Homo sapiens: one gene and its partner. The protein of the gene in region 2 interacts with the protein of the main gene of each other region in a pairwise test. Each region holds a gene or a part of one and is shown on either strand. Other genes may lie near its edges.

Region 1 (2,570 bases), on a different chromosome or scaffold from region 2:
AGGGGAAAAAGCTTAATCCTCTTGTGCATAGTGCATATAGAGCCTAGTCTTTTCTTTTTAATGTTAAAACTGCAATTGTTTTTGGAGAACTCAACTCTCTCCTCCACATGGCAGTGTCTCTTTCACCTCCCCCTCCTCCCCGCTGTGAGCTGTACTGATAGGATTAAAGTGCCAGCCGTGAGACTTGGAGATCTGAACTTTTACTGGAAATGAGAGGGAGTCGTCTAAGATTGCGTTTGGGAGTTATGTTGGTCTTTTTTTTTTTTCTCCCTTCAGCACCAGCAGAACCAAAATCGTGTGTGGTGGCAGATCCTCCTCTTCCTGCACAACCTTGCTTTGAATGGAGAAGAGAACAGGAACGGGGCAGGCCCTAGGTGAGGGTGGGCTGCCCTCTTCACATGGGGCACCAGGAACACCGTCTGGAACAGGAAGGACATCGGGCAGGACTGACACTGTGTCTTGTGAAATTGTTTTTTTGTTGTTATTTTGTGTTTTAATTTTTTTTAATTTCTCTCTGAGTGTACATACAACATACTCAAGCGGGACCTTCTTTCTCTGTCAGGCCCTTGACCTGGAATGGGGGCCTTTGTCAAACACTGTTGAAGGAGAGGCTGATGTGTCTGTGATGGTGAGAATTCCCAAGGGCTCTGACAAGTAGATTCTTCGACTGAGGAATCTACCAGTTGTCGAAGATGATCCGTTAGTGATGTTCTCTGGGAAGTGGACTGTGGTTTTTCCAGAGGAACTCAGTTAAGAAATCGAGAGTGGATTAGACTCCCAGTTCCACCAAACCTATGAGCCTTCCACTGTGGATGGGGGCCGTGATCCTGATGGTCACATTGCTTTAACCCAGCAGGGCTTCGGCCAGGGGCTTTCCACTTGAGGATAGCAGCTTCACTAGGCTGGCCGGCCAGCTCCACATCTGACTGGGTTCTTACTTCTCAGCCAGTACCTGCCCCATGGGCTCAAGGATTCCTGGCCAGCTCCTGCCACCTCCAGCAGACCTCAGGGAGGGTTGAGTTTCTCTAAGGACCCCTCAAACATGTCGCAAAATGAACCAAACTTCTGGCTAGGCCTCAAAACTGACTTGGTCCCACTTGGAGGCCCCAGGATTGGTCCTGAGGTACAGAGCCACTGCCACCACTGGCGGCCTGGGACCAGCTGGGTGTCAGCCACGGATGAGCCGAATAGCCAGTCAGCATGTTGCTGCTGGCAGCCTGTGCCTTTGTCAGCTCTTCTTTCAAAAGACCCCACCGACAGACCGCATTCCACCCCCAACATCGGCACTGAGGGACATCGGGGGCAAGTTTGCAGTGGGGCCGGAAAATATGGTGGCCACCCTACCATGAGAGTCAGCCGTAGGGGACCCCAGACCCCTTGGTTTCCTTGGAAACAACATACCTCTTCCCCCTTATCCCCAGTCCTTTTTCATACCTAGTGGGATACAGAAGAAGCCAGGACAGTGGCTTTGCCAGCTAAGTGACTTTTAGAGTAACAGATAACGATTAGAGTGGGGAACCGTCAAAGCTGGGTACACATTTCCTATCTTCCTCCAGCTTCCAGCTAGGCCAGAAGGGCATGCTCTGGAACCCAGCAGGATCACAGCTGCCTGTGCACGTCTTCCCTTCTCTCCCTGCTGCGGCACTTATGGAGAGGATCTAAAGCAGCCGGTGTGGCAGCTCCGATAGCAGGCACAGGGAATCTGTTAACCAGACGCTAGAAACTAAATTATAACTTTTGCATATGTGAGAAAAGACAACATTGGTGCTAACAGTGAAGTAAGGCCCAAAGGAAAGACGGCTTCCCTGGACAAAGAAGACCTCAGGGCTACCCAAGGAAATAGGAGGAGTCTAGAGTAGACTCACAAATCTGAACAAGCCCAAGTCTTCCAGTTCTGAGGAGAGGAGGTCTTCAGTACTATTGAAGGAGACATTGATCTTCTGGATGTACAGTTGTGCAGGTTGTTCACTGCACAAGGGCACCTGCAGCTAATGGAGGCTGGAATTCAGCTTGTGTTCTGCTCACTAAGCTGTGTGCGTGCCCTGGTGTGGGGCTACTTCTCCCAAGAAGAAGGGGTGCCTTTCCTAATTTGCAAAGGTGCCATATGGGCTCACAGCACCCTGGAGGAGAAGGGCCTCAAACTGTGCATGTAAGCCTTTGTTTTGTTCTGCTCAGATATTCTGGATATTACCTCTTCTTGGTCAGAATTCTATTCTCAGGGTGTGTACCATGATTTGTCTGCTAAGAAGACGGGTTCCTGCTTTGCAGAGAAGGAGCCGGGGACCAGCTTGAAGACTGGCTCTGGGACACACTGACCATTGTGAAATTCAGCCTTCCCTGTGGGTCTCCATACCATTTTATGATGTGTATGGGACATACGTTGTTCTCCCCTCTCTGGATCAAGGTGGTGACAGGCAGCCTGCTGCCGTATGCTTCAGTGGCACACACCAAAAAACCGGGATTATTTACAGCAGCCACTATTCACCCCTTTTGGCAGACTCTCCACCTGAGTTCAGTGAGAGAGAAAATGATTTAGATCTTGGTGCTGGGGCAAGGCCATCAGCTTCAGA
Region 2 (3,825 bases):
CCTGATTGGAGAATAAGCCATCTTTTCTCAGCTGCTTTGGCAACTAATATTAACGATGATGCGTATAATAATAATGATTGTAACTAACATTTACTGAATGTTTATCAAGCACCATGCAATATTCTAGGTCCTTTACATGTAACAATTCACTTTATTTTATTTTATTTATTATTTATTTATTATTTTACTTTTTTCGAGACAGCATCGCACTCTGTCTGGAACACAGTGGTGCGATCTCAGTTCATTGCAACCTCCGCCTCCCGGGCTCAAGCCATCCTCCCACTTCAGCCTCCTGAGTAGCTGGGACCACAGGCATATGCCGCCACACCTAGCTAATTTTTTTGTATTTTTAATACAGACAGGGTTTTTGCATGTTCCCCAGGCCAGTCTCGAACTTCTGAGCTCAAGCAATCTGTCTGCCTCAGCCTCCCAAAGCGCTGGGATTACAGGCATGAGCCACAGTGCCTGGCCACAATTCACTTTAATTCTCTTAATAAAAAGACTATTTTAATCTCATTTTATAGATGAGGAAAGTGAGGCACTGCAAGGTTATATAACTTGCCTAATGAGAAACAGCTAATAAGTGGCAGAGTCTGAATTTGAAAATGGAGTGATCTTTGTAGCTTAAAAAAATTTTTTTTTGGATTGCTGGGATGAACAGAAATGCTGGACAGCTGTTCTCTGGCCCCTGAGGCCAGAGTGGAGTCTAGCAAACAGCTATACCCACATGGCAGCCTGAACAGCGGCAGAGGCCAGGGTTTGGTAGCCTCTCCAGGGAGAAGGCAAGAGTTAAAGAATAGGAGAAGCCCATTCCTGGGAGAGAAGGAGCCAGCAGTGCCCCCTTAGGAAACTAATAGTGAGTAACTGCAGACACTTCTCTGTAGGCAGGTACGGGCTTGAGCCGCCATAACTAGATGTTTAGGGAAGTGAGGTCTTCTTTTGTAAGCACAGGCAATGAAGACTGGAATACTAATTGCTCATCTTTGGGTCCCATAGCACCAACATTTGTGTGCAGCACCAAGTAAGTGGTCAATGGATTGCTTGTAGACTGACCTCTCTAGTCCCGTCCTAGATGAACCATTGGGCCCCAACCACTGAGCCTCTACTCAGCACATGACTTGGCAGTTAGAAACAAGGACTAAAGTCAACTGGACAGGTCAAAGGAATTGCTTTAATTGAGGTCACAGGCATCACAGGGGTCTGCTCAGCTTCCTCGCCACCAGGGAGAAAAGTCCTTCGTTGTTGGCCATGGTGGAAGAATAACTTTGCGAGATCACCTCAAACCATTCGATTGTGTAGCCAGCCTCTTTCACAGCAGCCTCTACTGCCTCCCGGCCCAGGGGGAGGCTGGAGAACTTCTGCTCACCAATCATGTAGTAGCTGCTCTTGAGCGCATCCATGATCACCAGGAAGCCCCCTGGCTTCAGTAGGCTGCCGAGGTTCCTGAGCGCCCTGCAGTAGGTGGGGAGGTCTGGGCAGGCGGCATCCAGACACAGTGTGCTGAGCACGCAGTCAGCCGGGGGTAAGGGGACGGCCCCCAGTGGCTGGCTCTGAGTCACATCACACTTCAGCACCTGCTTGACCGCCTGTCTCAACTTCTCCTCCTTCTCTGGACCCTTGACTCTGAAAAACACAAACCCACAGACATTGTTTTCCACTCCAGTCATGGGGAACCCAGATCTCTTGGGTCAAGGCTAAAAATGGCCGTATTGTCCCAGATGTGTGTCCTTAGGGCCACCTCTATCGGGAAAGGAGAGAAAGAAGAACTGAGGGGTCATTTTGGCATTTGAATGAGACCATATTACCCTGAGCTATGTTAAATCTCTTCATAAAGTGAATAGTATGTGAAAACGATAATAATACCTAGCAGCCTGCTTCTACCGTGGACTTCCCTCCATGAAATTATTCTTCCTTCACTGCTTAGTATAGTACTCACTTATACTATACTGGCTCATTTATTAGTATTTATAGGTTATTATTATTATACTTGATCCATCTGCCAAACTGTAAGTTAGCGGCTACTTGACCCATACAGAATAAGTATTAATAATAAGGGGTTTCAAATGCTGAAACATTATCTTTGCAGTAGTTGCTGATCAATAAGAGTGGTGAGGTCTTCCATAGATATTTTTAGGAACTATTGATCATTATCCCACAGCTGTGAACAGGGCACTCCTGGAGAGAAGAAAGCTACATTTCCCATTCTCAGATTCCAACAAATATTGCAGATAGTATGTTTTCTGACAGAGATCATGTTTTTGGTAGCCTTGCCAGGAACCCTGTCCTTTTCTGCCAAATCAATGGCATGTTTTGGGTTTTTTGTTTTGTTTTGTTTCTAGAGACAGGGTCCTGTTCTGTTGCACAGGATGGAGCGCAGTGGCGCCATCACAGCTCACTGCAGCCTCAAACTCCTGGGCTCAAGGGATCCTCCCCACCTCAGCCTCCCAAAGCACTGGGATTACAGGCTTGCACCACCATACCAGGCTAATTTTTTTATGTTTTATAGAGACAGGGTCTCCCTATGTTGCCCAGGCTGGTCTCGAACTTCTGGCCTCAAGTGATCCTCCTGCCTCAGCCTCTCAAACTGCTGGAATTGCAGGCATGAGCCACCACCACACCTGACCCAGTGGTGATTTCTCAAGAGAAAAATCAGTTAATAAAAGAATGAAAGAAGAGAAGGCAAGGGCAGGAGATGGGACAGAGTGGCTTGTATCCTATTTGAATTTGTTAAAGGAGGAAGAAAGGAACAAACAAACAAATGATCAAAATTAAATAAACAGAGTGTACAAGAGAAACCAGAGAGCAGGGGCGGACAAAGGAGAAAGAAGTAGCAGAAGATCAGATAAGTGAGAAAAGGGGAAGAAACATTGAGTGTGTTAAGGGCCCAGGCCCCAGAGCACTAAGAGTAGGAGTGACCCCTGGGTATTGCACTCTTGGAAGGAGTTAACCAGCAAAGCATTGTGGAGCAGATCCAGTCTCACACTCAGGAAACACACACTCTACCATCTGATGCAGACTCCAGGAGAAAATGGCCACTTGGGCATCAAGGCTTGACAGACAGCAGAGATGGCCCCACATTCCAGCAAGTGAGGGAGACTTTCACTGGGACCATTTCCAGTTATGAGGAAAAGTCAATGGTTTAAATAAAACTTGATTCGAGAGAGTGGACACTAGTCATGGGCATCTTAAATATTCACTTAAAATCTTAATCCTAGCGAATATAATCACTTCTTTGCAAACATGCTTTATGCTTCCTATAATTTTCCATTTAAGGAGCTTAGCAATTAGCAGATGAAAAGATGCTCAACATTGTCAGTCATCAGAGAAATGCAAATCAAAACCATGAGATACCACTTCACATCACTATGACGGCTATAATAAAAAAGACAGATAATACCAAGTGTTGGCAAGGATTTGCAGAAACTGGAACCTACATACACTGCTGCTGACAATGTAAAATAGTCCAGTTACTTTGGAAAACAGTCTGGCAGTTCCTTAAAAGGTTAAATATAGAGTTACCACATGACCCAGGAAATCTGTCTAGGTATATACCCAAGAGAAATGAAAACATATATCCATACAAAAACTTGTAATGAATGTTTATAAACAGCTAAAAGGTGCAAACAATGCAACCGTCAACTTCTGAATAGGTAAATAAAATGTGATATATACATATAATGGAATATTATTTGGCAACAAAAAGAAATGAAATTCTGACACATGCTACAACATGGATGGACCTTCTAGACACAGGCTAAATGAAAAAAGCCAGAACCAAAAGGCCACATATTGTATGATTCCATTTATATGAAATGTCCAGAAAAG

Evidence for each region.
Region 1: the proteins of NNMT (region 2) and BMF interact in a two-hybrid assay, tested with the Homo sapiens proteins (one large-scale study listed by BioGRID and IntAct).

The regions. Positions count from the first base shown.
Region 1 is NC_000015.10:40,089,595-40,092,164, reverse strand, and holds part of BMF (bcl-2-modifying factor), read left to right. Parts: intron 1-276; coding exon 277-378; 3' UTR 379-2,570. UniProt on the Homo sapiens protein: May play a role in apoptosis. Isoform 1 seems to be the main initiator.
Region 2 is NC_000011.10:114,309,843-114,313,667, reverse strand, and holds the end of NNMT (nicotinamide N-methyltransferase), read right to left. Parts: intron 1,624-3,825; coding exon 1,191-1,623; 3' UTR 132-1,190; downstream 1-131. UniProt on the Homo sapiens protein: Catalyzes the N-methylation of nicotinamide using the universal methyl donor S-adenosyl-L-methionine to form N1-methylnicotinamide and S-adenosyl-L-homocysteine, a predominant nicotinamide/vitamin B3 clearance pathway.